7 separate regions of the Homo sapiens genome follow, and regions 2, 3, 4, 5, 6 and 7 are each linked to region 1. The links come from fine-mapping of genetic effects on gene expression. A gene starts in region 1. Each other region holds a variant in brackets. All regions are shown on one strand. Distances are between the middles of the regions.

What was found. PIP is the estimated chance that this variant, and not a neighbour inherited with it, causes the effect.
Region 2: its variant is fine-mapped to the expression of TUBGCP2 in whole blood (INTERVAL, PIP above 0.99).
Region 3: its variant is fine-mapped to the expression of TUBGCP2 in whole blood (INTERVAL, PIP above 0.99).
Region 4: its variant is fine-mapped to the expression of TUBGCP2 in whole blood (TOPMed, PIP above 0.99).
Region 5: its variant is fine-mapped to the expression of TUBGCP2 in whole blood (INTERVAL, PIP above 0.99).
Region 6: its variant is fine-mapped to the expression of TUBGCP2 in whole blood (TOPMed, PIP above 0.99).
Region 7: its variant is fine-mapped to the expression of TUBGCP2 in whole blood (TOPMed, PIP above 0.99).

The regions. Positions count from the first base shown.
Region 1 is chr10:133,306,559-133,310,620 of GRCh38, reverse strand. It overlaps TUBGCP2 (tubulin gamma complex component 2), which reads left to right and starts at 1,749. Exons shown (of 18, transcript NM_006659.4): 1 at 1,749-1,798. ZNF511-PRAP1 (ZNF511-PRAP1 readthrough) reads right to left here and starts at 1,707. Exons shown (of 9, transcript NM_001396060.1): 1 at 1,525-1,707; 2 at 1,158-1,231; 3 at 644-845; 4 at 333-457. The coding sequence starts at 1,677. ZNF511 (zinc finger protein 511) reads right to left here and starts at 1,707. Exons shown (of 6, transcript NM_145806.4): 1 at 1,525-1,707; 2 at 1,158-1,231; 3 at 644-845; 4 at 333-457. The coding sequence starts at 1,677. RefSeq lists enhancers at 1,222-1,516, 924-1,619, 2,343-2,572 and a silencer at 1,263-2,112.
Region 2 is chr10:133,376,795-133,380,856 of GRCh38, reverse strand. PAOX (polyamine oxidase) reads right to left here and starts at 1,595. Exons shown (of 7, transcript NM_152911.4): 1 at 1,360-1,595; 2 at 372-858. The coding sequence starts at 1,540. LOC124902563 (a long non-coding RNA gene) reads left to right here and starts at 1,966. Exons shown (of 2, transcript XR_007062395.1): 1 at 1,966-4,062. RefSeq lists silencers at 1,260-1,669, 1,770-2,029 and an enhancer at 2,003-2,502. The variant C/A (reference allele first, on the strand shown) is at 1,684.
Region 3 is chr10:133,360,460-133,364,521 of GRCh38, reverse strand. It overlaps ECHS1 (enoyl-CoA hydratase, short chain 1), which reads left to right. Exons shown (of 8, transcript NM_004092.4): 8 at 1,589-2,037. The coding sequence ends at 1,654. Among named protein-coding and RNA genes, the nearest start is that of FUOM, 4.5 kb to the right of the region's middle. The variant C/T (reference allele first, on the strand shown) is at 1,935.
Region 4 is chr10:133,266,962-133,271,023 of GRCh38, reverse strand. ADAM8 (ADAM metallopeptidase domain 8) reads left to right here. Exons shown (of 23, transcript NM_001109.5): 14 at 1-143; 15 at 219-288; 16 at 514-664; 17 at 1,050-1,127; 18 at 1,495-1,579; 19 at 2,162-2,276; 20 at 2,906-3,095; 21 at 3,607-3,672. Among named protein-coding and RNA genes, the nearest start is that of ADAM8, 7.9 kb to the left of the region's middle. RefSeq lists an enhancer at 1-515. The variant T/C (reference allele first, on the strand shown) is at 2,182.
Region 5 is chr10:133,346,630-133,350,691 of GRCh38, reverse strand. ZNF511-PRAP1 (ZNF511-PRAP1 readthrough) reads right to left here. Exons shown (of 9, transcript NM_001396060.1): 6 at 531-597. It overlaps PRAP1 (proline rich acidic protein 1), which reads right to left and starts at 3,319. Exons shown (of 5, transcript NM_145202.5): 1 at 3,267-3,319; 2 at 531-597. The coding sequence starts at 3,274. RefSeq lists enhancers at 1,974-2,633, 2,634-3,293, 3,294-3,953. The variant C/T (reference allele first, on the strand shown) is at 2,293.
Region 6 is chr10:133,279,778-133,283,839 of GRCh38, reverse strand. TUBGCP2 (tubulin gamma complex component 2) reads left to right here. Exons shown (of 18, transcript NM_006659.4): 15 at 619-762; 16 at 1,498-1,617; 17 at 2,404-2,567; 18 at 3,939-4,062. Among named protein-coding and RNA genes, the nearest start is that of ADAM8, 4.9 kb to the right of the region's middle. The variant C/T (reference allele first, on the strand shown) is at 2,192.
Region 7 is chr10:133,387,528-133,391,589 of GRCh38, reverse strand. It overlaps PAOX (polyamine oxidase), which reads right to left. Exons shown (of 7, transcript NM_152911.4): 5 at 2,522-2,634; 6 at 1,843-2,000; 7 at 1-278. The coding sequence ends at 135. Among named protein-coding and RNA genes, the nearest start is that of MTG1, 4.6 kb to the left of the region's middle. RefSeq lists silencers at 1,702-1,781, 2,371-2,665, 2,922-3,079 and an enhancer at 2,832-2,961. The variant A/G (reference allele first, on the strand shown) is at 2,500.

The sequences.
Region 1 (4,062 bases):
GACCACGGCCGACTGCTGCAGGAGGTACAGGCATGGCCCAGAGGGGTGTGAGTGCGGAGGCGCTGCGCCCGCTCATTCCCACACCCCCTCTGCTGCCTCCACCGGCACAGAGCTGGGCAGCCAGGGGCTCCCCTCCAGCCTCCCTTCGGCAGGGTGGCCGCTGGCACAACCACCTGTAGCTGTGTTGCCAGGGCTTCAGGTACCTGCAGGTGAACACCCCATTAGGTGACACACAAGTGCTTAATAAGTCTGACCGTCTATGCATTCCGGCTAGTTGGAAACCTTTTCCTAAAATCAAAAGCAGACACGTGCTGAGCCTGGCGGCTCCCTACCTTCTGCTTTTCTTTGGCTTATCAAACCGGAAGTCCGCGGGGTACAGGTGCATCCTCACCATGTGATCCTTCCGGTCTCTGCTGGTCTTGAACTTCTCTGTGCAGCCTTCTACCAAGCACTGATACTGAAATGGAGACCGTGTCACCTCCCTCTGACCCCTGGCCCTCCCCCACCGCCATGCCCCCGTAGCAGAGCTGCCAAGGGCGGAAAGGTGTCCCCGGCCTTGCCCGAGCACCCGAGAGCTGGGGGCAGCACTCTGAGCCCATCACCAATGGGGGGTGGCCTCGGCGGCTGTGCAGTTGTCACCCACCATGTCCTGCCTCTCAGACAGGATCTGGAAGAGCGAATCGTGCCACTCCAGGATGTGGGCGTCCAGCAGGTGTCCGGAAGGGAAGGCCCGCTTGCAAAAGGAGCAAACATTTCCGTGCAGCGTGTGGTAGTGGTGCTCGTAGTCGTCCAGGGCATCGAACACCTGGCAGCAGCCGGCCACCTGGCAGGCAAACGCGGGCACCCTGCCAAGGAGACGTGCTTCAGGAGCCCTTCCTCCGGTGCGAGGAACCAAGCTGGACTTTCTGCACAGTTTCCCTTTGAGACGTCCAATAAAGCCCCTATGCATCTTTTGCAATCCCAAACCCTCTTTTTATGAATTAAGTTTCACAAACAGGCTAGGTGGTGGAAGAGTCGGCCACGCCAAAGCTGGACAGGCACAGCGCCTCGGTGGGGCGGCCGCACATGGAAGAGCGGCAGCACAGCCCCAGGGACCAGGCACCGGTCAGGGAGGCGGCGCAGGAGTAGCACTGGCTAGGCACTGCCCATTCGCTTACCTGGGCTTCTCAGGCACGTCGGCCACCTGCATGATCACGTCCTGGAGGTAGAGGTGGCGCTGCACGTCCCCATCCTGCAGGAAAAGTGCGCCGTGGGCGGGGCCAGGTGACTCGCGGCACGCCCACCGCGTCAGGCCTCGCCCACACCCGTGGCCCCAGTCATCCCGCGCTCCGGTCCCGCCCCACAGCCTCAGGCCCCGCCCACTCCACGTTCCGGCCCCGCCCCACCACCTCAGGTCCCGCCTGTCCCAGGCTCCGGCCCCGCCCCGCAGTCGTAGGCCCCTCCCACTCCAGGCTCCGGCCCCGCCTCGCCGCCGTAGGCCCCACTGGATCCTACAACTACTTTTTCCCTCTTTTGCTCACGCACCTCGAAGAACTGGTGCTCCCGCGGGAAGCGCACGGGGCGCGCAACGAAGCGAAAGGGCGCGGCCCCAGCCGCGGGATCCCGCTCTACAGGCAGCGGCTCCGCCGCCCCGGGCCCCGCAGCGAGGCGGGCGCACAGCGCGGGGGGCAACTGCATCACCCCGGGCGCGGGCGGGCGCAGCCTGTCGGCCACCGTCCGCGAGCCGAGCCGGACGTGACGTCACGCTCACTTCCGCCGCCGTCGGGGGCTGCGCGGGGGCTGTGGCTCCGGGACTGCGGTGAGTCCTGGCCGAACGCGGGCGCGGGCGTGATGAGGGGGTTGGGGGACTGCCAGGCCCGGGGGGGCCCACGAGGCGACGGGGCTGGCGGGACGCGGCTCTTCCCGCGCGCTCCCTCTGGCTGTGCAGCGGTCCCCGAACTCTGGGGCCGAAGCCCTTCGGGCCTGCACCGGCCAGGCCAGCGTCTTGCCCCGCGGCCCGACACTCAGCCGGGGCGGGGCGGAGCGGGCCTCCGGGTCGTCCCGGGTGTCCCCTCCCAGCCCTGGGAAGCCGGGTCGCAGGTCCCCCTCTCGCACGCCCTCTCCCGTCCGCCTTGCCCCGCCTGTCGTCTCCCGCTGCAGTCCCTGGATCTTGTTCCCTCTAAACCAGTCGCGAACTGGAGCCAAAGTGACTCCAGTTTTATTGTAACCGTTTTTAATTTAAAGCCCTTGGGTGACTTCCCGTTACTTTAGTTCAAAGGCCCTTTCCTGGTTTGTCGGGGTCCTGTCGACCTCTCCAGTCCCCGCAGCTCCCGTGAAACACAGGACCTGTGCTAGGTGCTCAGGGCGTGTGGGGGAAGGCATCACAGGAGGGCGCGGCAGCCTTGTAGGAGAGACAGACGTCAGAGTAAAGAGTCACCTAATTAAAATGGTGAATGACAACACACGCGGGAAGCAGTGGACGCTTCAGATCTACTGCAGAGAATGGGCCCAGTGGCGGATAGAGGCTTTAGCTTTCTCGTCTGTCACCCAGGCTGGAGTGCAATGGTGCGATCATAGCTGATAGATCGCTGCGGCCTCAAATTCTTGGGCTCAAGTGGTCCTGCTGCCTCAGCGTTCCAAAGAGCTGTAACTGCAGGCGTGAGCCACCATGCCTGCCCCTGTACTTTTTCCATGTTTAGATACACAAATATCTCTGTGTTACAGTTGTCTAGTGTTCAGCACCGCCACCTGCTGGGCAGGTTTGTAGCCCACGAGCAAGAGGCTCCTCTAGGTGGTTTAGGTGCATTGTAGGCCGTACACCATCCAGGTCTGCGAGTGACTCTGATGATCGCACAGAAGGAAATCATGTAACCATACGTTTCTCTTTTTTTCTTTTGGAGATAGTGTCTCTCTCTGTCGCTCAGGCTGGAGTGCAGTGGCGCGATCTGGGCTCACTGCAACCTCTGCCTGCTGGGTTCAAGCGATTCTCGTGCCTCAGCTTCCCAAGTAGCTGGGATTACAAGTGTGCGCCACCAGGCTTGGCCAATTTTTGTATTTTTGGTAGAGACTGGTTTTCACCATGTTGGCCAGGCATTTCTCAGAATGTTGAGTGATGCATGACTGTACTTTCTGTCTCTGTAAAAGCCTTTGGGCTCTTGACATTTTCCACAAGTTGTAAAATAACATTTTTCAAACCAATTTGTACAGTTAGCTTTGAGCTCTCAACAGAGACTCTTTTTCACGTCCCTCTGTGTTTTAATCACTTGGAGTGTGTGCTCACTAGGAGTGTGTGCCCCGCTTGTCCGTGGTGGAGTGTGACATGCGTGCATTGCTTCCCTCAGCACGCGTCCCTGCGGTAGCTCACAGCCTCTGTGAGGAGGACGTCAGTCCCTCCCAGTCACAGTTGCTGGGCCTGTCAGTTTGTGTGATTAATAGTAAGAATTCAGGAGCATCAAGAAGGCCAAGTCAGCGGCCATGGCTAGACGTTCCTCCAAGAAGCAGCCACGGCTAGATGTTCCTCAGAGCTGTGTTTTCAGTGGGACGCTGTGCATTTCTGGCGGGACAGCTCTGTTGATGATTAGCATCCCCCGCCCTTGCCCTCTAAGTAGCGAGAGCACCCTTCCATGACCGTGACACCCCAGAGTTGCCCTAGGACTTTTCCAAAGGTCTTCTGGGGGGAGGGACTCTGTGCGAGTACGGGCTGCCCTCTTGGAGGCCCGGTCCCCACATTCAGGGAGAGCAGCAGGCTCCTCATGGGATGAACACTCATGACGTGCGGGCATCTGTGCTTCTATTTCTAGAAGAGATACGAAGTTTCCTGAAGGTAGTTTTTATTTTTTTTATTATTATTTTTTGAGACAGAGTCTCGCTCTGTTGCCCAGGCTGGAATGCAGTGGTGTGATCTTGGCTCACTGCAAGCTCCGCCTCTCGGGTTCATGCCATTCTCCTGCCCCAGCCTCTGGAGTATCTGCGACTACAAGCGCCCGCCACCACCCCCGGCTAATTTTTTTGTATTTTTAGTAGAGATGGGGTTTCACCATGTTAGCCAGGATGGTCTCGATCTCCTGACCTCATGATCCGCCC
Region 2 (4,062 bases), 70 kb before region 1:
ACAGGCATGCACCATCACGCCCGGCTAATTTTTGTATTTTTAGTAGAGATGGGATTTCACCATGTTGGCCAGGCTGTTCTTGAACTCCTGACCTCATGATCCACCTGCCTCAGCCTCCCAAAGTGCTGGGATTACAGGCGTGAGCCACCGCACTCAGCCTTACCTTTCCTTCTTTTAAACACTCTCTCTCAGAAATAACTTTTTTGGCTTAAATGAGCAAAACTAGGGAAAGGAGCAACCAGTCTGTCGGAATGGGGAGGACAAATGGTCTCCTGTCCCTCCCATACCCAAGCAAGAGCGGAGCTCAGCCAGCCCCGGTGCCCTGGGGAGCCTGGTGGGAGGACTGGCGGGGCAGGGGCTCAGGCACGCACTTAGAAAAGGTGCAGTCCAGCCCCGGCAGCACGGTATACTCCCCAAAGGGTGCCAGGGCCACCAGGTCCATGCTGTGGGTGCCGCTCACACAGCATTCCAGGTTGAAGAAGGAGTTCAGGACGGCCAGCTTCAGCTTCCTGGTCTCCTCATCCTCTGTCCAGCCGGCCACGTGCTGGCCAATCTCCTTCTTGAGGTACTCCCCGACGCTGGGCACCGGGGTCTCTGCAGCGTGCAGGAACTCCCGGGTCTGGTCTATCAGGCCGTAGAACAGAGTCGCCATCTCCGCCACCAGCTGGAGGCTCACGCTGGCCCCGGAGCTGGCGTAGCTCACGGAGGGCAGGCCCACGTGACCCCCGGTCTCCACCAGCTGGTTCTCCTGGGACAGCTCCTTCTCCCCCAGCAGCCCGTACTCAGCAGCCAGCTGGAAGACGGGGTTACCCCGGGAGGGCCCATGGATCCAGTGCGCGCCCACCTCCACCACGCCACCTGCGAGGGGACAGCAGATGCCACCTGGAGGTCCCTTTCCTAGAAGGGTCACCCCGAGCCCTTCTCCTGGGCCACGCCCACGCTGGCCTTCCCAAGGAGGATGTACCACACTGTCCCCAAGGGCCCTGTGGTCCCCCAGGGCAGGGCCCTGTCAGACCCAGTTTAAGGGGAGCACCTGGGCAGGAGGGCACTTGTCGGGCGGTGTGGACCAGAGGGAGGGGCGCAGGGTGGGCGTACCCCGGGGCTGGGGGGGCCCCCGTGGGGCAGAATCAGGGCGGCCTTGTGGAGCCGTAGGTCGCCTTCCCTGGCCGGCGCCCTCCTGACTAACTCTGAGCCCTGAGTTTCGGGGCGGTGAACTCTGGCGGATTAAGCGAGCGGGGATTCCCTCGGGGAGCCCGGTGAGGCGGCCGGGCAGGTCGGCTGCGCGCAGGGCAGGTTGGGGCCGGCGAGTTCGGGCGCAGCCGGTTGGGTTCCGGGAGGGGCTCCGGGAGGGGCGGTTACCGAAGCAGCGCTCCGAGCGGATGCGGCCCCCGGCGCGGGCCGTGGCCTCCAGGACCCGCAGGTGCGGGAAGGCGGAGTGGCCGCAGAGCCTCTGCGCCGCGCCCAGCCCCGCGATGCCGCCGCCCACCACCAGCACCCGGGGTCCGCCCGGGGCCTCCCCGACGCTGCCGGTCGACTCCATCGCGCGGTCCGGGCAGTCCGAGGGCTTCTGAGTAGCCGGGAGGTCTGGAGCTCTCGGAGGAGGCCGGAGGCGGAGCGAGGGGGCGGGGAGGCGCTGGGAGGGGCGGGGAGGGGCGGGGAGGCGCGGGGAGGCGCGGGGAGGGG[C/A]GGGGAGGGGCGGGGAGGGGCGGGGAGGCGCGGGGAGGGGCGGGGAGGCGCGGGGAGGGGCGGGGAGGCGCGGGGAGGCGCGGGGAGGCGCGGGGAGGCGCGGGGAGGGGCGGGGAGGGGCGGGGAGGGGCGGGGAAGGGGCCGGGCCGAGCCCCACAGTGCGCCTCGGCCTCCGCGAGCCTCCGGACTGGGCTCGGGTCTCAGAGGGAAGCGCCCCGCGTGGGAGGGCCCGCGAGGACAGGCGTCAGGGAGCGTCCCGCGCTGCCGGGCGGTGCGCGCGAGCGTCCCCATGGAGGGAGAAGCCGGCCGGCCGGGCGGGCCAGTGTCTCCTCCAAGGGAGACGAGGGCGCAGCGAGCGCTTCCCCCAGGGACCCGCGTCGAGTGCGAGGGCGCAGTGGGTCTGGGGGTGCCACGGTGTCAGGGGTGGGACCTGGGAGAGCTTAACGCGTCCGGAGGGGGGCTGTGAAAGCCTCCAGCATCGCCAGCGAGCCGTCAGTTCGCGTGTGCGCGCGCCTGCGTGTGCGCGTGTAGTCACAGGGCTGCAGGGACACAGGACCAAAGTACAAAGTACACTCGCAAAGTACAAAGTTCAGAAGCCGAGGGCAAGTGCAGAAACGTCCCTCGCCCGGGAAGTTGAGCGCACACCCAGGCACGCCTGTGTTTCTGGAGAATCCCCGGTGCAGGCGGCCGAGTTTTCTGCTGCATCGCAGCCCGCGGGGGTTGGAAAGGCTCCCGCCCTGTTTTCAGGCGCGTCCCCGCCTCCTGAGCCCCGGTCCTCTGCCGAGGGGCCGCGCGCTCCAGTTTGCCAGCGTGAGCTTCACTCTTCGCTCTCGGCGTGGGCCTCCTGAGCCGTGTCTTACTTTCCTTTGATTCCCTCTCGTCCCAGCTGGAGAAAAGGCTCCCGGAAGGGTGACCTGGTGTCGCTGGATTCCACTCCCCATCACTCCCTAGCCAACCCCGCGAGCTGAGCTCCAGGCAGGGAGAGGGGCGGGTGCCTGGGAGTCGGGCTGACTCCCTGGGCGGTGGCGGGCAGGGGTCGAGCGTCCTCTGTCCGTCAGGGGCCCGCAGCACCAGGAGGCGACGCTGGATGCAGTGGCCATCTCCTCCTGCCTCCAGGCCATGGGGAACCCAGGGCGGATCCCGGGTCAGCAGGGCCAGCTGTCCACCAAGCTGACCCACCCGACATGCCAGGACTAAGGAAAGAAGGGCTGCCCCACACCCTTAGTCGGATGGCAAGTGTTTGGGGTGCAGCCCCCGCCACGAGTGTCACCTGTTCTGCCTGAGCAGGCTTCTCTCTTACTCCCTGCTCTTGGGCCTGAAGCAGAGCCGCTGGCTCAGTGGGGCGCTCCATTCTGAGGTCCCTGGCATGCACCACGGAAGCCCAGCGGGACCACCCACCCACCTGCCCCAGCTCCCCAGCGGAGGTCCTGAGATGGCAGATTAAATACTCTGGGGTTCTGAATTCCACAGATGAACTGGGTCCCCCACGGGTATGGCCAAGGGAACGGCCCACTCCCTAGTGGCTCCGTGTGAAATCGAGCTGCTGCTGCTCTCGCCGCAGGGCCCAGCTCACTGCCCAGACATAGGAGCACATCGCCCTGCGCACAGGCTGGGTGGGCACAGCTGTGAGGGAGGCCACCCCATGCCTCAGGCCTCCTGCACAGGCGTGGGCCTCGCCACTCTGGGTGGACAGGCTACTTTGGCCCCTCAGCCTCTGGGGACTGCTGCCCTGTTTTCAGCACCGTGTCAGGCACCATCTGGTCAGCCAGCTCCTCCAGCCCCGAGACTCCCGTGTCCTCATTCTCCTGGGCCGTTACGGTCGGCCAGTGCCCAGCCTTTGCTGGAAGGCTGTCCAGGCTGGGCTCTGGTCAGGCATCGATGTCCCCCAGGCACCTGGCCTCACCTCGCGTTGGGACAGCCTCTGCAAGATGGAACAGGAAGGGTCTGGCTTTGCCTCTGTCACCTTCTCCCGGTCCATCATGTCCTCCTGGCCAGCCCGTTCCTGGTTCCTGCGGGGAGCCCAGCCCGAAGGGGAACCGAAAGATTCTAACTTAACTCTAGTTCAGCCTCCCGGATCCTCCTGTGGAGCGGCAGGATCCCATAAAAGATACTTGGCTCAGCAACTTGCTGGCCAAGCCTCCCCACAGCGGTCCACACAGGCCAGAGGTAAACATGCCCATGCCCCACACCTGGAAGGCCTGGTGCAAGGAGGGGTGATTGTAGTGACTGAAATGGGAACTCTGGCTTTATGGCGCGGAGAGAGAAGACATGGACCCAAGAGCTGCAGGGTGGGGACAACCGACGCGCTCTTTGTCCCCTGGATGTGGTGCCACAGCCTGAATCCAATAGCACGGGCCGCTGACGCGCTGACCTGGGGCT
Region 3 (4,062 bases), 54 kb before region 1:
ATTGGTTCCATCAGTGGGTCTTGATGTTAGGAAAAAAGTAGAGCATGTACAAGTTCAAAAGTACAGAAACCTTACAGGGGCTTTTCTTGTTTTTCCTGTTATGTGAGGTCTGTGAATTGCACCCTCAAGCAGCTCCTTTATTGAAAATGCAGTTTCAGCCGGGTGGGTGTCGAGCATCCGTAGCCCCAGCTTCCTGGGAGGCTGAGGCGGGTCGTTCGAGTCCAACTGGGCAGCAAAGCAAGACCCCGTCTCAAAAAAAAGACTTTTTTAAAAAATGAGGCCGGGCGCGGTGGCTCACCCTGTAATCCCAGCACTTTGGGAGGCTGAGGCGGGTGGATTGCCTGAGCTCAGGAGTTTGAAACCAGCCTGGGCAACATGACGAAACCCGTCTCTACTAAAAATCCAAAAAATTAGCCGGGCGTGGTGGCAGGTGCCTGTAATCCCAGCTACTCTGGAAGTTGAGGCAGGAGAATCGCTTGAACCCAGAGGCGGAGATTACAGTGAGCCGAGATCACGCCACTGCACTCCAGCCTGGGAGACAGAGTGAGACTCTGTCTGAAAAAAAAAATGTAACTCATTTTACCCATGTTTTTTTAGATCATTCCAATTATTTGGAATAGGCTCAAATGTATTCTAATAAGATAAGCTGAAGCTTTAGAGCAATATTTTATAAGATTTCTGCCAGTAACTTAAAGTAATTCCTCTAATTACCATCATAATTTTAATTTTCTTCCCTTTGAGGCAGAGTCTTGCTCGGTCGTCCAGGCTGGAATGCAGTGGTGAGATCTCAGCTCACTGCAACCTCCACCTCCTGGGTTCAAGTGATTCTCCTGCTTCAGCCTCCCGAGTAGCTGGGATTACAGGTGCCCACCACCACACCTGGCTAATTTTTGTATTTTTAGTAGAGACAGAGTTTCACCATGTTGGCCAGGCTGGTCTTGAACTCCTGACCTCAAGTGATCTGCCTGCCTCGGCCTCCCACAGTGCTGGGATTATAGGCGTGAGCCACTGCACCCGGCCAGATTACCATTTTAATTCATGTCTTTCACTGGGAGAAAGTCATACTTCGGTGTTTTAATTGTTCTATAAAATAAAAATTAAAAGTGGTTTGGGCACCTGAGGAAGGGGTACAGATGCGTGTGTGTGTGTGTGTGTGTGTGTGTGTGCGCGCGCGCACACCTGGGGACACACGTGCACACAGTGTAAGAAAAGCAGATGCAGAGTTGAGTTCTCACGTCCTACTCCAACACAGAGTAGCCCCTGATACAGGCCACCCATCATCCAGTTGATGACATGGTGAGTGACCAAGATGGGTGCATCTGAGGCTCTTTAGATGTGAGCTTGTTGGACATACACAGTGGCTCCTGAATGACCGTCACCTAGACTGGTAGAGAGAGGCCGTGAAAATCCCCGCGCCCAGGCCCAGCTCTGATTGGGCAGGTGTTCCTGCCGCTGAGTCCCCTCCCCGGCCCCCTGGGCCCCTGTGAGCATGAGTGAGGCAGAGCCAGGGAGAGACGGGCGGACATTGGCATCAGGCTCTGTGAGGATACTGCGCGTCCAGCTCTGTTTCTGTTCCTTTTCCTGCCAGGATGACCGGAAAGAAGGGATGACCGCGTTTGTGGAAAAGAGAAAGGCCAACTTCAAAGACCAGTGAGAACCAGCTGCCCCTGCTTCACACCTCTGCTTGGAGAGGACAAGTGCAGCCTGTCAGTTTTAGAAGCAAGTAAATCATCCTCTTTTCAAGAGCAGTGTCCGTGGTGTGCAGTTCCTCTCCAATTGCTGCGTGGTCGTGGCCCGACCTCTCACGGCATGACAGCCTTCGTCACCCAGCCTGTGAGGGTCCTGACTGGAGCACCTTCTAAATCTAAGATTCTGCTGAGGAGCCCCCGCTGGTCCCTCTGGGCATGCTGTGCTCGGACGGAAAGCGGGGCCTG[C/T]GGGTCCTTGTGTCCCTGCCGCTGAAGAATGGGGCTGCTCTGAGGGAAACGCTGTCTGCTGCCTTCATACAGATGCTGATTAAAGTGATAGCGATTCAGATTACACCACGCCTTGTAGTCATGTCTGCAATGAGCATTCTGTCATGTTAGTTGTTTTTTTAAACTTTTTTGTTTTTTCACTGTAAGGAACAACATTCAAACAAAACAAGTTTGTATAGTCAGTTGCCTCACATCATACTTCCAGGGTAGCCACTGTGAACAGCTGGGCTTGTGACTTCCTAGAGTTCTGTGCACGCACCCACACACCCCTGCACACGGGCACAGGCATGGTCTATGGTTTTCTTCCACGCCCACTCACGTCGAGCCCTTTCCTCACGAGAGCCCACCCTATTTTCTTCCTACTTCTGTCATAAGGAGCTCTCTGTTCAGTTTACTGCATTCTTCTCTACTGTGGGAACACACGACGTCAACTTGATCATCTTAACCACTGTGTTTTAGAGACGGGCTGGAGTGCGTGGCTCAGTCACAGCTCACTGCAGCTTGAATCTCCTGGGCTCAAGTGATCCTCCCCCCCTCCCAAGTAGCTGGGACCACAGGGGCGCACTCCCACACCCAGCTGACTGTTTAAATTTACCTTTTGTAGAGACGGGGTTTCCCCGTGTTGCCCAGGCTGGTCTGAACCATTTCAAATGCACATTTCAGCGGCATTAAGTACGTTCTCGTTGTGCAGCCATGACTATCCAAGAAAGCTTTCATTTTCCCAAACGGAAACTGTCCCCGTTAAACAACAACCCCTTTTCTGCTTCCCTCCAGCTCCTGGCACCCACGCTTCTACTTCCTGTCTCTATGGAGGGACCTCCATTTATCCCTTTGGGTCAGGCTCATTTCACTCAGCCCCACCCCAAATCCCTGGGTTGAAATCCTAACCCCTACCGTGACTGCATTAGGAGGGGGGACTTTGGGCAATGACTAGTCACAAGGGCAGAGCTCTTCGAGTGGGTTTAGTGTCCTAGGAGAGAGAGGGTGGAGCTCCTCCAGTGGGATTAGTGCCCTATGAGGGGGCGGAGCTCCTCCAGTGGGATTAGTGCCCTATGAGGGCAGAGCTCTTCAAGTGGGATTAGTGCCCTATGAGGGGGCAGAGCTCTTTGGGATTAGTGCCCTGTGAGAGGGCGGAGCTCTTTGAGTGGGATTAGTGCCCTATGAGAGGGCGGAGCTCCTTCAGTGGGATTAATGCCCTAAGAGAAGGCAGAGCTCTTCCAGTGGGATTAGTGCCCTATGAGAGGATGGAGCTCTTCCAGTGAGATTAGTGCCCTATGAGAGGGCGGAGCTCCTCCAGTGGGATTACTGCCCTATGAGAAGATGGAGCTCTTTGAGTGGGATTAGTGCCCTATGAGAGGGCGGAGCTCCTCCAGTGGGATTAGTGCCCTATGAGGGGGCGGAGCTCCTCCAGTGGGATTACTGCCCTTAGGAGAGCCCTGAGGGCACTCTTTCACCCCTCCCACAATGTGAGTGCTCTGTGGGAAGGTGCTGTCTGTAAACCAGGGTGGGCCTCATCACACACCGAACCTGCCTGGAGCCTTGGCCTCCAGAACTGTGGAAAGTCAGTGTTTATCAGCCACCCAGACCATGCCACTGCATCACAGCAGCCCAAGCTAAGGCACATACTGTCCAGAAGGTTTGTGCCTGTTGTGGCATGTTTCACCATTTGATTTTCTCACTAAATGACAGTCCTATAACATTCTTTTTAGTGGCCCTGACGTTTCATACTATGGACATGTCATCATGCCCTTGGTTCTAGGTATTTCCCCCAGGGAAGCCCACCTGCCCCCAGCTCAGTGCAGACGCCAGAGAGCGTTTGCCGGTGTCTCCTCCACTTGGCCCCGCAGCTCAGTGTGCGTAGGTGGTCTAGATTGTGGTCATGGCCTTGGGTTGGGTGGGCAGAGTGTGTGAGCCCCCACCGCTGAGGACTTGGGCTGAATACCAAGGACAGGTTCACCTGCATCAAGAAAGAAGAACAGTGATCTTTGCCGAGCTCTGGTTCCCTGAACGCTGCAGGTGCCACGCCCGTGTGTCCGGTTACATGTACACGCAAAGGGGACACACGCATGCTCTGCGACCGCTTGCCTCG
Region 4 (4,062 bases), 40 kb after region 1:
CCTCGAGGAGTTCTGTGACGGCCGGCACCCTGAGTGCCCGGAAGACGCCTTCCAGGAGAACGGCACGCCCTGCTCCGGGGGCTACTGCTACAACGGGGCCTGTCCCACACTGGCCCAGCAGTGCCAGGCCTTCTGGGGGCCAGGTGAAGTGGGCACAGAGCTGGCCTGGCAGGGTGGCTGCAGGCCTTGCCAGGGCTAACCCGCTTCTGGTCCCACAGGTGGGCAGGCTGCCGAGGAGTCCTGCTTCTCCTATGACATCCTACCAGGCTGCAAGGCCAGCCGGTACAGGTGAGCTGAGACCGCCCTGGGCCCAGGACATGTGCTGTTCCCACAGCGGGGTCAGCCCCAGAAGGGCCTCTGCAAAGGGTCCTGCTCCCATGAGGGTCTGCTCTGGACCCATGGACCCCAGGCTCAAGCGCACCGTGTTGTGGGAGGGAGGTGGGTCACTGTGGCTCCTGGGCTCCCCAGCATGCTCCCAGGCAAGCTGGCCCACGACCTGCCGTCCATCCACAGGGCTGACATGTGTGGCGTTCTGCAGTGCAAGGGTGGGCAGCAGCCCCTGGGGCGTGCCATCTGCATCGTGGATGTGTGCCACGCGCTCACCACAGAGGATGGCACTGCGTATGAACCAGTGCCCGAGGGCACCCGGTGTGGACCAGAGAAGGTGAGCCCCTGGCTCAGAGGCCGCGCCACCCCCCAGGCATCCCGGGCATGTGCCCCACGTGGGTGCAGATGCGTTTCTGAGCTTGGCAGCTGCTCGAGGCCATGGGAACAGAGTTCTCTCCGCGCTTCTAGTAGAGACTGAAAGGTTTCCGGGGGTGGGGAGAGACATGGTTCTCAGTTCATCTGATGGCCGTCGCCGGCGGCCACGTGCCCCAGGAGGGCCACTTCCCAGGGGCTTTGGGGGTAGGCAGCCGGCAGATGGGCTGAAGCACAGCCACCTTGGACGTGGTGACCACAGCCCACCCCCAGCTTACCATGCAGTTTCAAGGGACGCTGGCGGGGCAGAGGTCCAGAGCGGCTGCCTGAGAGACGCCTCCTACCCCCAGGTTTGCTGGAAAGGACGTTGCCAGGACTTACACGTTTACAGATCCAGCAACTGCTCTGCCCAGTGCCACAACCATGGGGTATGTGTGGCCTCTCGGGACAGGGCCCCTGCACAGAGGCTGCCGCTCTGAGGGAGCCGGTGCTGGGGACAGCTCTGGACACGGGAGCCTGAGGCTGGGGGAGCCTGGCGTGTCCTGTCCATGGGGGTCTCTGTGGAGCCCCTGTCGGCTGAGGCCCGGCCTGGGTGGCCTCCGTGGATGGAACCTGCATGGTCACCGGGCAGCGGGCAGGGGCTACATGGAGAGGCCTCGCCGTCGGCGCATGTGGGCAGGGACCGAGGGGCCCTCGGGGGTGGGGCTGGCCCGGGGCCCTCATGCTGGAGGCACGGCCCCCACGGCCCCTTGGGGTCCACAACAGGGTTGGCCCTGAGCCCAGCCGTCCCCGCAGGTGTGCAACCACAAGCAGGAGTGCCACTGCCACGCGGGCTGGGCCCCGCCCCACTGCGCGAAGCTGCTGACTGAGGTGCACGCAGGTAGGCCTCCCTGGCCAGCGCAGGTGGGGCTGGGGTCCAAGCTCAGAGGGCCCGAACAGAGCCCAGGCAGAAGCCGCGGGCCCGGGAAGCTGGTGGTGTTCACGGTGCCAGTTTGCTGCCACAGGCATCGACACACAGGTATAGGCAGAGCCTGTCTGTCCCCAGGCTGATGTGAGGAGGGGAGAGCCCTGTCCCAGAGGGAGGCAGTGGCCGAGGGCAGGGCACGGCCGTGAGCTGAGACTCCAGTGTCCTCAGCCTGTGTCTTCCAGCCCCTCCTCGGCCCGGGGCCCTGAGGCCACCCAGCATTTCCTCCCCGGCGGCCACTGAGCATGTGGTCGTCCAGAGCATCAGGCCTCAAAGGCACAGCCGTGCCCACAGCACTGTGGCCCAGGGCCACCCTGCCAAGCTCTCCAACCTGTCACTGGCAAGCTGGGAGTGCCAGTGTAAGGTACCAGGTCCTCCCTGAGGGGTCCACAGGGCACAGCCTGGGGGTGCTGAGAAAGACCGTGTCTCTGGGAACCTCCCTGGCTCCTGCCTGAGGTCGCGGCCTGCCTGCCTGATGTGGGGCCGTGTGTCCCACAGCGTCCGGGAGCCTCCCCGTC[T/C]TCGTGGTGGTGGTTCTGGTGCTCCTGGCAGTTGTGCTGGTCACCCTGGCAGGCATCATCGTCTACCGCAAAGCCCGGAGCCGCATCCTGAGCAGGTGAGGGTGGTGGGGGCTGTGACGGAGGGTGGCGAGTGCTTCCCGTGCTCAGCTGCCAGAGGAAGGAGTGCCCAGCACGGGCCCATGGTGGACGGCACGGACACCCAGGCTCCTCTGTGCCCCGACGTCATGACGCCCCCCGGCTTGGGCTGAGTTTGAAGGGCCTTCCTGGCTCCACTCGGCCAGTGCCACTCTGGACTCCACCTTCCCCTGAGGCTGGGGCGGGGCATGGTTTTGGTGGCCGGTTGGGCTTGGGGCAAATCCAGAGAGGCCCGGTGGGGTCCCCCATACCCTGACCCAGCCCCGTGAGCACCCTGCCAGTTTCCTGCTGAGCCCTGCTCTAGGGACCTGGACCCCCACACAGCAGGAGACCCCCACGCAGCAGGACACACTGGCCCCACAGCCTCCAAGCATCTCCCGCCCACCTGACTGGGGCCCCCAGGACATGGAGGGGGTGTCCCTGCCTCTTCAGGGTCCGCCCCACCTCCTGGGCCTGTCTGTCTCTCATGGCCACAACCTCTCGCCCTGAAGCCTCTCGGGTCGGCTGGAGCTGGGAGGGAGAGACTCGGGGTGTGGTGCTGGGGCCCCATGGCCGGACACTGACCATGCGCCCTGTGCTTCCTCCCCAGGAACGTGGCTCCCAAGACCACAATGGGGCGCTCCAACCCCCTGTTCCACCAGGCTGCCAGCCGCGTGCCGGCCAAGGGCGGGGCTCCAGCCCCATCCAGGGGCCCCCAAGAGCTGGTCCCCACCACCCACCCGGGCCAGCCCGCCCGACACCCGGCCTCCTCGGTGGCTCTGAAGAGGCCGCCCCCTGCTGTAAGCACCACCCCTGGCGGGTTCATGAGGCCGAAAGCAGTGCCCAGGCCCCATCCTGCGACCCCAAGTGCAGCCCGAGGCCAGCAGAGCCCTTTCATTAAATTCACGCACAGGCCAGCGGTGGCCCCGAGGCCCAGAGCAGCTGCTGTGGTCGCCCTGCTGGGAACACTGAGGCTTTGGGAGTGGGCACTTCCCAGACCCCTTTGAGCCATGATAGAATCTGAGCTTGAACTTAAACTTGGGGGCTCCCAGCCCAGGGAAGCTTCCTGGCCTCCACAGAGCCCATCTGAGGACAGTGTCGAGACACAAATGCTCTCCGGCCCCCAGCTCGGGATCACACGGCTGAGGGGAGGAATGGGGCGGGGCCTCTCATCTGGGGTGGGGCCCTGTGGGCCGCGCAGACGCCTCCAGCACACACAAGAGGCAGGAACCTCGGATCCTGGAGCTGGGGGTGCTGGAGGGGCACGGGGGTCCCAGCTCTGACCCAGGCTCTCGGCCCTGTCTCCTCCAGCCTCCGGTCACTGTGTCCAGCCCACCCTTCCCAGTTCCTGTCTACACCCGGCAGGCACCAAAGCAGGTGAGCAGTGGTGATTGGGCGGCCAAGCCTTCTGAGGGTGTCCAGGCCTTCCTGATGGGATTGGGGTCTGTGCACTGCACCGGGGGCCAGGGATCCCCAGGTGGCCCCTGCTGTACACAGAAGGCTGGTTAGCCCGACCTCGTGAGGACATCAGACAGAAAGGCAGGTCAGCGAGGCCACAGGAAGGCAGGAGCTCAGTCCTGCCCTGCGTTGGAGCTGGTTTGGGGGTCCTGGCTCCTTCTCCTTCCACTCAGACCTGCTCCGCCCACCAAGCCCCTCCCAGAGCTGAAGCTCTGGCAGAGAAGAGGACTCCCTGGGGCCCTGCAGGACAGATGGGTGGGTGGGCTCAGGGCAGGGACACGTTCCGCGCTTCCCTTGGGTTTGGGGGCT
Region 5 (4,062 bases), 40 kb before region 1:
AGGGCCCGTCCCCAGGCATAGTCCCGGCTGAGGACACCACTGTCAGCACAGACAGTGCAGCTGAGCCACTAGCACATGGAGTCACCTCTGGCCTTCAAGGCCCAGGTGAGTATCAAGGGGTGTCATCCGGGCCCTCCTCCACCTGGGTCACATGGGTTCATCTGGGATCACCTGTTCCACTTGGGACCACGTGGGTGTCATCCGGGCCCACCTCCTCCACCTGGGGTCACGGGGGCTCATCTGGACCCACCTCGTCCACCTGGGGTCATGTGGGCTCATCTGGACCCACATCATCCACCTAGGACCACCTGGGTGTCTTGAGGCCTGTCCATCTGACCCCAGGGAAGGGAAGCCTGCCCCCTCCTCATGCCTGCACAGGCATCAAGAGTCATGAGCGTACCCATGCCTCTCTCCCCTAAGCCAGCTTGGGGTTTGAAGCCAGAAGAGGGGCCCTTTGTCCACATCCCCTGCTGTAGGGGCAGAAGGTGACAACTGGAGTTGCTGCCCAGATGGGAGGGGCTCACACCTACCTTGGGTGCTGGGACTGCACCTGCCTCCCACAGCAGCACAACCACCAGGCTGGTGACCAGGAGGAGCCTGAGGGGGGGCCAGAGAGGGAAGTGTGAGGTAGGGGAAGGGGACGCCCTGAACTCCAGGCAGCACCCTGATGGGCAGCTGGGAGGCCTGGGCTGGGTTCCTCCTTGGGAGCGCAGGTAGTTTTACTGGACTGTGCTCACATGGGCCAAGACACGCAGGCACAGAACAGGGAGAAGCCCCAGGCCCACCTGCCTCCAGCCCCCCTCAGGCCAGAGCCCACAGCCCCAGCCCCAGACTCTGCTCCTCACAGTCTGGGCAGACCCCACTGTGGCAGGCACTGGTGGTTGGCTTGGAAACTCCAGAGGTTCTGCCATGCCTCTGTGCCGCCCTCCACGTGGGGACACACATGAACACACTTGCACATGGGTGTGGGTATGGGTGGGTATGGAGCAGCGAGGGCCCACAGCCCCACGCCCACAGAGCCCTGAGGCTGCACGCTGCTGCAGGCAGGGCACCTGCTGTGTCCCAGAGCTGCGGGGCCACGGCTGGGGGGCTCAGGGGTGAATGGCAGCACTATTAGGCAGGCAGGCAGGGTGTCAGGTCAGTTCGGACACGGGATGTGTGTGTTTGTGTATGTGGTGGGGGGTGTGCATATGTTGTCTGTGCATGTGTGTTTTGTGGGTGTGGACCATGTGCATGGTGGGTGTGCATGTATGCTGTGGGTGGTGTCGTGTTCGGGTGTGTGTGCACTGTGTGCTTCAGTGTGTGGTGCATGTGTATGTTGTGTGTGGTGCGGAGTGTGTGAGTTCGGGGGTGCGTGTGCTGTGTGTGTATGTTATGTGTGTTTGTGTGTGGTGGATGTGTGTGTATGTTGTGTGTGGTGTGGAGTGTGTGGGCTTGGGTGTGTGTGTGTGCTGTGTGTGCATGTATGTGTTGGATGTGTATGTATGTTGTGTGTGGGGTGGAGCGTAAGGGTTTGGGGGTGGGTGTGTGCTGTGTGCATGCGTGTGTGGTGTGTAGAGTGTGAGGGTTTGGGAGTGTGTCTGTGTGTGCGTGCGTGTGTGATGTGGTGCAGACTTGTCTCTTCAGGGCCCTGCGGGGGAGGCTTGCGTCTGTCAGGGTGGGGTGGTCTTGGGGTGGGGCGGGGCTCTGGGTCTGTACAGGGCTCAGCAGGGCTGCAGTCAAGGGTGTCTGGGGCAGGCGCAGTGGTTCACACCCATAATCCCAGCACTTTGGGAGGCTGAGGTGGGCAGATCACCTGAGGTCAGGAGTTTGAGACCAGCCTGGCCAACATGGCAAAACTCCGTCTCTACTAAAAATATGAAACTGCCTGGGCACGGTGACTCACGCCTGTAATCCCAGCACTTTGGGAGGCTGAGGCAACAGATCACTTGAGGTTAGGCATTCGAAACCAGCCTGGCCAATATGGTGAAAACTTGTCTCTACTAAAAATACAAAAAAAAAAAAAAAAAAATTAGCCAGGCGTGGTGGCAGGTGCCTGTAATCCCAGCTACTTGGGAGGCTGAGGCAGGAGAATCACTTGAACCTGGGAGGTGGAGGTTTCAATGAGCCAAGATGGCGCCACTGCAGTCCCTCCAGCCTGGGCGACAGAGCGAGACACTCTGTCTCAAAAAAAAAAAAACAAAACTTAGCTGGGGGTGGTGGCACACACCTGTAATCGCAGCTACTCCTGCTGAGGCAGAAGAATCAGTGTCTGGGACACCCTGCAGGCCTGGATTGCAGCTCCACAGGGAC[C/T]TTTGCCCGTTCTCTGGGTGACTCAGCCATGGTGAGAGGTCAAAGGGCAGGGGGGATGCCCCGGACAGCCCGGGGCCGGGACCTGGTCTGGTCTGGTTCGGGGGCCCTGCTTCTCCTCAGGACCCCCAGCTGGTTCTGATGCTGGGCAGGGGCTCTTGTCTGGGCACTGGACCCCAATCCCACTGCCGTGCTGCCTGGGCCACCCCTGGTGCCCACCTCCCATGACACACAGCCTGGGGGCCTGGGATTCGGGTCACGGTAGCCCCTAGAAAGGTGGTCGGTGGTGACTGCCAAGCAGCCTGGCTGTGGGATCCCCGTGGGTCCCCTCTCCAGGCAAACGGCTCTGGGCACCAAAGGGTCCCCAAGCTACCCAGAAGCCACCTCTCTACAAGGGAGAAACACCAGGAGAGGAGGGGCAGGGAGGGCCCTGGCTTAGAGGAGGGGGAAGAGGAGGAGGGCACCTCCACAGGAGCGGGGAGAGGGGTCCCCCACACAAGGAGGGGGAAGACAGACACCCCCACAGAAGGAAGGCAGCCTCTGATTCCAGGGTCCAGCGGGAGCCCGGGTGCTTCCCTGAGCTCCAGATCACAGCTCCCAGGGTGACACCACCTCAGGGCAGCCCCTGGCTCCTGCGCCCCAGCCCCTCCCCTCCCCCAGCCCCCTTCCTTTTGGGCAGTCACAGGCCTGCTGGTTTCAGCCTGGCACCTCCCCTTTCCTTGTTCCGGGTGGGGGTCCCTGGGTGATTCTCCACCAGGCCAGGGGAACCAAGAGGCAAGTGCACTCGGGGCCACAGAGGAGGTAGAGCCTGGTGGCAGACCCCAGACCCTCAGAGGGCCCCTCCTTCTCCCTCCCACCCGCACACTCCCCTGAACCAGGCCCCCTGGAGCGCAGCACAGCTGGGCCCCCTCTGGCTAAGGGCCAGGCCTCCAGGTTTGGGTGGGGTGGGGATTGGGGCTCAGGGATGGTGGCATTACCTCCTCATGTCTGGGGTCCGCGTCTCTGTAGAGAGTGCTCAGGGAGCTGCAGTGGCTGATCCCAGTATCTGGCACCCGGCCCAGCTCCTCCTGCCCAGGCCCAGGCCAATTGGGGCTTTGTTGCTGCCGCTTGGGGCGTGTCAGGACAGAGGTCGGGGCCAGGGATCCCACCCTGGGTAGCTCAGGTGACTGGCTCTGCAGCCGCCCAGCCCACTCGGGCCTGGATCTGAGCGGGGACACCCAGCTGCCTGCTCAGGGCCTGCCACACGACTGAGGAAGAAATTTGCCTTTAAAAACATGCTTGTTGACCGGGCGCGGTGGCTCACACCTGTAATCCCAGCACTTTGGGAGGCTGAGGCAGGTGGATTGCCTGAAGTCAGGGGATTGAGACCAGCCTGGCCAACATAGTGAAACTCCGTCTCTACTAAAAATAAAAAAAATTAAGTGGGCGTGGTGGTGGGCTCCTGTCATTCCAGCTACTCAGGAGGCTGAGGCAGGAGAATTGCTTGAACCTGGGAGGCGGAGGTTGCAGTGAGCCGAGATTGCGCCACTGCAGTCCAGCCTGGGCAACAAAGAGCGAAACTCAGTCAAAAAACAAAACAAAACAAAACAACACCAAAAAAAAAAAACCTGCTTGTCATGAAGGCTGAACCGTGCTCACAACCAAGGCAACTTGGAAGGGTGTCGTGGGCAGCTGTCCCCAGCTCAGCTGAAGCACTTCCTTCCTCAGGTGGGCGTGACAAATCCCCCATCCAGCCCCAGCCCACCTGCCTGTCACACCTGCCCCTGCCCACCA
Region 6 (4,062 bases), 27 kb after region 1:
TCCTTTCACAGGGAGACAGGAAGTGCAGGAGAGGCAGGGCGAGGGGAGAGGCAGGGAGTGCAGGAGAGGCAGGGAATGCAGGGAGACGCAGGGAGTGCAGGAGAGGCAGGGAGTGCGGGAGAGGCAGGGCGTGCGGGAGAGGCAGGGAATGCGGGAGAGGCAGGGAGTGCAGGGAGACACGGAGTGCAGGAGAGGCAGGGCAAGGGGAGAGGAAGGGATCCCCCAGGGCGGGGCTGCACCCACACTGCTGGCCACACACGGGACCCCTTGCTGCCTGCCGTCCTAGGGGGACTCTGAGCCGTCTTTGCCCCGAGGTTGTCTCTCCCACATTGCGCATCTGAGGCTGAGGGGCCTGAAGGCAGAATCTGTTGGTACCAAATTCCAGAAGCTGCCGCAGCCTCCCTTCCTGTCTTCTGCCTTAAGAAATGAAACCCCTTCGGGGTGTGCCCATCATTTTTTTAGTGGTGTTTGGAAGTTTTCCCCTAAAAGCCCAAGGCCCATTTAAGAGGTAGAAGTGCGTAAACAGGAATGCACAAAGCCAGAACTGAGCACGTGCGCATGCAGGGCCCGTCTGTCAGCCACGTCTTTCTGAGAAGGGGCTTGGCCTGTTCCCCGCAGGCCTCCAACATTGACGACGTCCTTGGCCACCACACAGGCTTCCTGGACACCTGCCTGAAGGACTGCATGCTCACCAACCCCGAGCTGCTGAAGGTCTTCTCCAAGCTCATGTCTGTGTGCGTCATGTTCACCAACTGCATGCAGGTGCGTGGGTGTGGGTAGCACCATCGGGTGGGCAGGCGCGGGTGGGCAGACCATGTCCCGACCGTGGCCGCACGCAGCCTGCTCACGTTTTCCTGCCCTTGTGTTCGTGGAGGAGCCGCTGGGATCTGAGTGTTTCCAGAACTCCTGGTCTTCCTGGCCGGGTGATTCCCTCCTGGAGCCCCTGCCCTGGCAGCGTGGGCAGGGCTGTGTTCCTCCCGAACCATCCCTCAGCCTCTGTGGTGCTGGTCTCTGTCCGGGGCCTTTGCTTATGGCCCTTGCATGCTCTTTTCCTCAGCACTTGAGCTATTTGATTCCGTTAAGGACCTGCAGGCACTAGTCACAAGCAGCTGCCGACTGGCGATGGTGCAGAACCTGCGTGTCTAGTGGCAGAAGCAGGGGTCTGAGAATGAGGCTCTCCAGGCAGTGCCATGGGGAGGGTCCGGAGGAGGGCGAGTGGGGAGGTGGAGGAGGGCATGGCCACTTCAGGGTCCCAAATAGGGAAACACCAAAATAACTGTTCTCAGGAAAATCAGCTGGTCACCGTGGAAGGTAGACCTGGGAATTCTGTCGGCACAGATAAGTCATTTCCCCTGCAGCCTCAGAGATGCTTGTGTACCCCCAGCCGCAGGCTACAACAGAGGTGCGGAGGGTGACGTGCCTGCAGGACTTGTTTTTTCTGCAAAGCATTGTGGTTGTAACTAACAGAAGCATTTCCTTGCGACTCTCCCCCCCTAGAAATTTACACAGAGCATGAAATTAGATGGCGAGCTGGGCGGGCAGACGCTGGAGCACAGCACCGTCCTGGGGCTGCCCGCAGGGGCCGAGGAGCGGGCCCGGAAGGAGCTCGCCAGGAAGGTGCGTGGCCTCCAGGTTTGGCCAGAGAGAGACGCTTCCTCCCGGCTGGGCGGCAGCCTGGGCATCCTGACGCAGGGAGAACAAACCTCCCCCCTTTTACTTCCATCTCCCCTCAGATTGAAGAAAAGACTTAAAATTAGCTTCCAAGCACAAGCACAAGAGCCTCTCACAATCTTCTCAGCTCTCTGGTCCCCACTTCAGCCAGTCGGGCTCGAGGGAACCCCCACAGATCTTCAGAGCGAGCGCTGTGCAGGGCGCCTGGGCGAGGGCAGGGGCCACACCCGCTGTCCCTGCTGAGCTCGGTCCTGAGTTAGAACCGTCAGGCTCTCAGCAGGCACGGACAGGCTGCATGTCCTCGGAGGCATGGCCCTGCGGCGCCGGCTCCGGGGTGGCATGGTGGGGTGGGCAGTCCCGTGTTCACACGCTGGAGCTGGAGCTGGCAGAGAGGAGTTGGGTTTGGAAGCGTGGGGGCCGGAGGTGAGGGACACTGAGAGGCGCCCCGACCTCCTTGCTGAGAAAGCTGCTGGGAAAGCTCGTTCATCTCACCCCAAAGGAGAGTGACCACCTCATCCCA[C/T]GAGGCCTGGAGTGTTTCTCTGAGTGCTGGGTTCTCAGGAATGTTTTTTGATGTCTTTTTTACCTTGAATCTCCTGAAAACATCATGGAACCCATGTTTTCTATTTAAGAAAAGGGGAAGGGAAAGGACACCGGCCTGCTGGGAACAGTGTGGAGCCAAGAAGGCCCACGGTGGGGGTGGGCATGGCTCACGCACCCCGGCTTTCTTTCCAGCACCTGGCTGAGCACGCAGACACTGTGCAGCTGGTGTCCGGCTTCGAGGCCACCATCAACAAGTTTGACAAGAACTTCTCAGCCCACCTGCTGGACCTCCTGGCCCGGCTGAGCATCTATAGCACCAGTGACTGTGAGCACGGCATGGCCAGCGTCATCTCCAGGTGGGTGGGCGCCACCCCGGCTCAGCCCTTCCTCAGCTCAGTCCAGCGCCTGCCCCTGCCCAGCACCGCCCTGGCTCAGCCCTTCCTCAGCTCAGTCCAGCACCTGCCCCTGCCCAACACCGCCCTGGCCCAGTGCTGTCCCTGCTCAGCCGTCCCCCAGCTCAGCCCAGCACCTGCCCCTGCCCAGCACTGCCCTGGCCCAGTGCTGCCCCGGCTCAGCCTTCCCCCAGCTCAGCCCAGCACCTGCCCCTGCCCAGCACCGCCCTGGCTCAGCCCTTCCTCAGCTCAGTCCAGCACCTGCCCCTGCCCAACACCGCCCTGGCCCAGTGCTGTCCCGGCTCAGCCTTCCCCCAGCTCAGCCCAGCGCCTGCCCCTGCCCAGCACCGCCCTGGCCCAGTGCTGCCCCGGCTCAGCCTTCCCCCAGCTCAGCCCAGCGCCTGCCCCGGCTCAGCCCTTCCTCAGCTCAGCCCAGCATCTGCCCCAGCCCAGCGCCACCCCAGCTCAGCACCTGTCCCTGCATCCAGGCCCCATCTCCCCTGCACCCTCCCCTGGTCCACCTGGTGTAGCCTCCTTCAGAAGGTGGGGCAGGTCTGTGTCCTGGTGCTAGTGCTGGTCATATGCCACTCCCTGAAGTCAGGCTAGCCCAGCTCTCCCTGGGGTGTGACATTCTGTGCAACTGGGCTGCCCCATTGGCACCCTGCGGCTGTGTGTGTCCTGTGGGGCTGATCAGGCCTGGGTCAGCTTCCCTCATGCTGCACTAACACCTAGCCTGGGGGAAAGGGCCAGGTGGCCAAACTGCCAGCCTGGAAGGGGTGGTGCCCTTGGGGGTGCTGTCCTTGGGAAGGTGCCTATTTGTGCTTTTGGACCACCCTGTGCCCTGTGCCCCCCACAAATGTTCTGATTTTCTGAGCAGGGATTTCTGAGGCCACCCTGCATTGAGAACCACTGCTTGGTTCTCCAAGCCCCTGACACCTCAGGCCCCATTGCTAGGCCCTGTTGGGGTGATGGGAGCCCCAACTTTCTGGGGCCAGGAGAGAAGAAACCTGTGTTTGTGCCTTTGAGCAGGACTGAACAGGACTGAAAACCTTCCTGTGGAAACATTAGTTAGGAGCGTGCCTCACCCTCACCCCTGCAGGGCCTCTTATGGTCTCTGTAGCTGAACACTTCCCCATGGTAGGAGCAGGGCTGCTCAGGACGGACCCGCAGAAGGAGTGTGTGCCCCAGCTCCACTGTCCTTCCTCACCCCTGCTGCCCAGCACGCACCCGCAGAAGGGGTGTGCACCCTAGCTGCACCGTCCTTCCACACCCCTGCTGCCCAGCATGCACCCGCAGAAGGGGTGTGCACCCCAGCTCCACTGTCCTTCCTCACAGGCTTGACTTCAATGGTTTCTACACGGAGCGCCTGGAGCGCCTGTCTGCAGAGAGGAGCCAGAAGGCCACCCCCCAAGTGCCTGTCCTGCGGGGGCCCCCGGCTCCTGCACCCAGGGTCGCAGTC
Region 7 (4,062 bases), 81 kb before region 1:
GGTGGCCCTGGTTACCAAAAACCAGAGGACCCTCATTAACATCCCCAAATTTCAAGCCAGACTGAAATCTGTCAGAAGAAATGAGGGTCCCAGCCTACCCCCGACACGGGTGGAACAGAGTAGGCTGGGCCCAGCTAGAGCCTGGGCCTGGGCTGCTGCACCTGCGGGGCCCACAGACTGAGGAGGCGGTCGGCCTCCCTCCATCCCGACAGCAGAGCCCCGTGCGTCGTGGAGTAAAACGTGCGATGTGTGGCTTCCCCCGCAAACAGGATCTGGAGCTGCAAAGAAGAGCCAGGGTTAGAATGGGGATGCAATTCAGACAGCAGGGTCTGGGCAAGGAAACACAGAAAATGGCTCACAAGCATCCACCAAGAAGCAGGAAAACAGCTCACACACCTCCACCAACGGACGAGAAAAGGGCTCACGTGTACCCACCAATAGCCAGGAAAACAGCTCACACACATCCACCAACGGGCAGGAAAACAGCTCACATGTATCCATCAACAGCCAGGAAAACGGCTCACACGCATCCACCAACGGGCGGGAAAACGGCTCACACGCATCCACCAACGGGCGGGAAAACGGCTCACACGCATCCACCAACGGGTGGGAAGACGGCTCACACGCATCCACCAATGGGTGGGAAAGGAAGCCACTGCACCCCGCAGCTCAGGTGTGAACAGCTTTTAGAGAAAACAAGGGGTGTAAACACTGAATAGTGATCTGGCCTCAACTCCTGGATCACATATGGGGAGGGTGGGGGAGGGATCTGGGAGTCGGGTGGGCAGAGGAAGAAAGCTACAGCCTTATCTGATGTAATGAGAAGTCAATTAGTAACACCTGAAACTGAAAACTCAAGAAGCAACATTTCCAAGCAGGTTCACTGAAGAGAGACCATGAGCTGATTGGAAAACTGAACAGTGACTAAATATTGGATCATATTGAGGAATGATTATTAATTTTTAAGTGGGTAAATGGTATCATAGTTATATGGTTTTATTTTTATGTTTTCTGAGACAGAGTCTTGCTCTGACACCCAGGCTGGAGTCCAGTGGTGCAGTCATAGCTTACTCCAGCCTCAACTTCCTGGGCCCAAGCCTGAGCAGCTGGGACTACAGGTGCATGCTACCATGCCTGGCTACTTGTGTGTGTGTGTGTGTGTGTGTGTGTGTGTGTGTGGAGACCGACTCTCACTATGTTGCCCAGGCTGGTCTCGAACTCTTGGCCTCAGCAAACCTCCTGCCTAGGCCTCCCAAAGCACTAGGATTACAGGTGTGAGCCACTGCCCTCAGCATCATAGTTAAGTATTTTACAAGGATGTCTTTATCTTTTAGAAACAGGCACCAAAATATCCTGAGGTGAGACAATGTCCTGTGTGAGTCATGCTTAATAAAAAAGGGCGGGGGTGGGCGGGGAGAAGCTTGGCTTAGGGGAAGCCTGGTGGGCACTGAAAGGTTCTCCCTACTTTAGTATGTTTGACATTTTGCACAGGAAATGTATCTCAAAACGTGGTAGCAGAAACATGTTTTTAGAGATGCAGTAAACTTAGCGATGAGAATCAGCTGGGAGCACCGTCTGAGAAGGGCAAAAGGGGCTCCACCTGCCATTTTGGTTTTATTTTCTTTTGTTAGCACTGCAGAATTCTCTGACTTTTTAAGCTGTGTGTGTATAATTCTCACAAAAACAGTACATTTAAAAATTATTCTTAGTTTCAAAAAGAAAATGGCTTCCGAGTCTGGGATCCCAGCCCACCCGCCACTGGCTGGTGCTCCTGCAGCGCCCAGACTCGGCGGGGGCCTCTGCAGCGGGACCCACGCCCCCCGACTGGGGCACGCCACATACCTGGGCGCCGGCGCCGTCTGCAGGGAGGGGCTGAGCCAGCAGGTCCAGGTCGCCCCCAGTACTGCCCACGGCCACGTAGCTGTAGGACCCCCTAGTGTACGGGGCGCTGTGCCAGCGAGACCGCAGGACGCTCTTGGGCGCGGGGAGCCGTGGGTTTCCTGAGCCACAGAGACACTGCATGTTAACCGAGAACTCTCACCCACAGGTCTGCAACTGTTTTTGTCATTTTTAAAGATTGAGCAGTTTAACGTGAAAGATGCTATGCAGGAAGAAAAGTGAGCAGCAGAGTGTGTCAGGAGAGGCTCTTCCTGCCGCCTCTGACCCGAGAGCAGTGGGCTGGGACCCGGGGGCCTCTGACCCGACAGCAGCGGGCCGGGACCCGGGAGCTGTGACAGCAGCAGCTACTGTTTCCGAGCCTTGGGTTCCTCCTCTGTAAAAATCTGATCAAGGACAACGGCATTTATTTTGGTGGCAGAAGTAGGAAGTGTTTGCAAAGTCATTTCAGTTCCTCGGAGGTAAGAACTGTTACTGACCCCACTAACATGAGGAAGGATGGTCCCTGGAGATGTACAGAGTCAGCCAAATTTAGTTTTTCTCTGTTCTGCAAAGTCTAGTTTCTGTTTAGAGATCAACCAGTAACGAGCAGAGGCAGGAACC[A/G]GCGTGTGTGGTGAGTACCTACCTGTCACTCTCCGGAGCACTTGGGTGAGACACAGAAGTACTTCTTCATCCGACAGAGTCTCCATGAACTCAGACTCAAGTCCGGCAATGAACCCACAGAGAACGTGGACAGACCTGCATGGAGAAAGAGAGCCCTGGGATGACCAGACCTGCATGGAGAAAGAGAGCCCTGGGATGACCAGACCTGCATGGAGAAAGAGAGCCCTGGGATGACCAGACCTGCATGGAGAAAGAGAGCCCCGGGATGACAGTGTCCAGCCCAGCTCTCCGCCCGCGTTTCTCAGCAAGGAACCACTGATGGAGCAGGGGCCCCAGAGGCACAAAGAGCCACCCCACAGAGCGTCCCTCAGGCAGCAGTTCGCAGAGTGTGGGCGGCAAAGTCCTGGGGGTCCGAAGGCCCTGCCAGGGACCCTCAAGGTCACAGCCATCTTCAGACGCTAAGACAGCATTTGCTGTTTCCACCACGCCGACATTTGCACCTGAGCAAGAGCCAGGGCAGGTAAACCGTCCCTTAGCAGAATCAGGCAGCAACAGGATCCACATGCGCCTACAGGCGTTCCCACCACTGCACATGAGGGTTACAAAATGCTGCTTTTTGCAGCCGTCAAAGAACGAGATCATGTCCTTTGCAGGGACATGGATGGAGCTGGAGGCCATTATCCTTAGCAAACTAACACAGGAACAGAAAAGCAGACAGCACATGTTTTCCCTTTCAAGTGGGAGCTAAATGATGAGAACACACACTGGGGCCTATGGGAGAGTGGAGGATGGGAGGAGGGAGAGGAGCAGGAAAAATAACTAATGGGTACTAGGTTTAATTCCTGGGTGATAGAACTAATCTGTACAACAAGCCCCCATGATACACGGTTAGCTACATAACAAACCTGCACGTATATCCCTGCCTCTGAATATAAAAATTAAAATATATATATTAAAAAATAAATAAAAATGCTGCTTTCACTTGAGAATGTCCTTGATCAAAGGCAGTAAAAGTTACTAATTTTATTAAATCTTGATCCTCGAGTTCATGTCTTTTTAATAATCTGCGTGGAGGGCCAGGCACAGTGGCTCAGGCCTGTAATCCCAGCACTTTGGGAGGCCAAGGCGGGCGGATCACGAGGTCAGGAGTTCGAGACCAGCCTGGTCAATATGGTAAAGCCCTGTCTAATAAAAATACAAAAATTAGCCAGGCGTGGTGGCGGGCACCTGTAGTCCCAGCTACTCGGCAGGTTGAGGCAGGAGAATGGCATGAACCCGGGAGGTGGAGGTTGCGGTGAGCCAAGATCGCGCCACTGCTCTCCAGCCTGGGCGACAGAGTAAGACTCCATCTCAAAAAATAATAATAATCTGCGTGGAGAAGCGGGATCCGCATAGAACACTCCTGCTGCGCGTGGTGCACGGTGGCCGTGGAGGACTCACCTAGCACACGCTATTCCAGGCGGGGCTGGTGCGTCTTTCACAGACAGGCTCAGAACTCAGGAGAGCACCAGTCAGACAAATCATGGTGTGGTATTTGGTGACATTTTCTTGAAAATGAGCAAA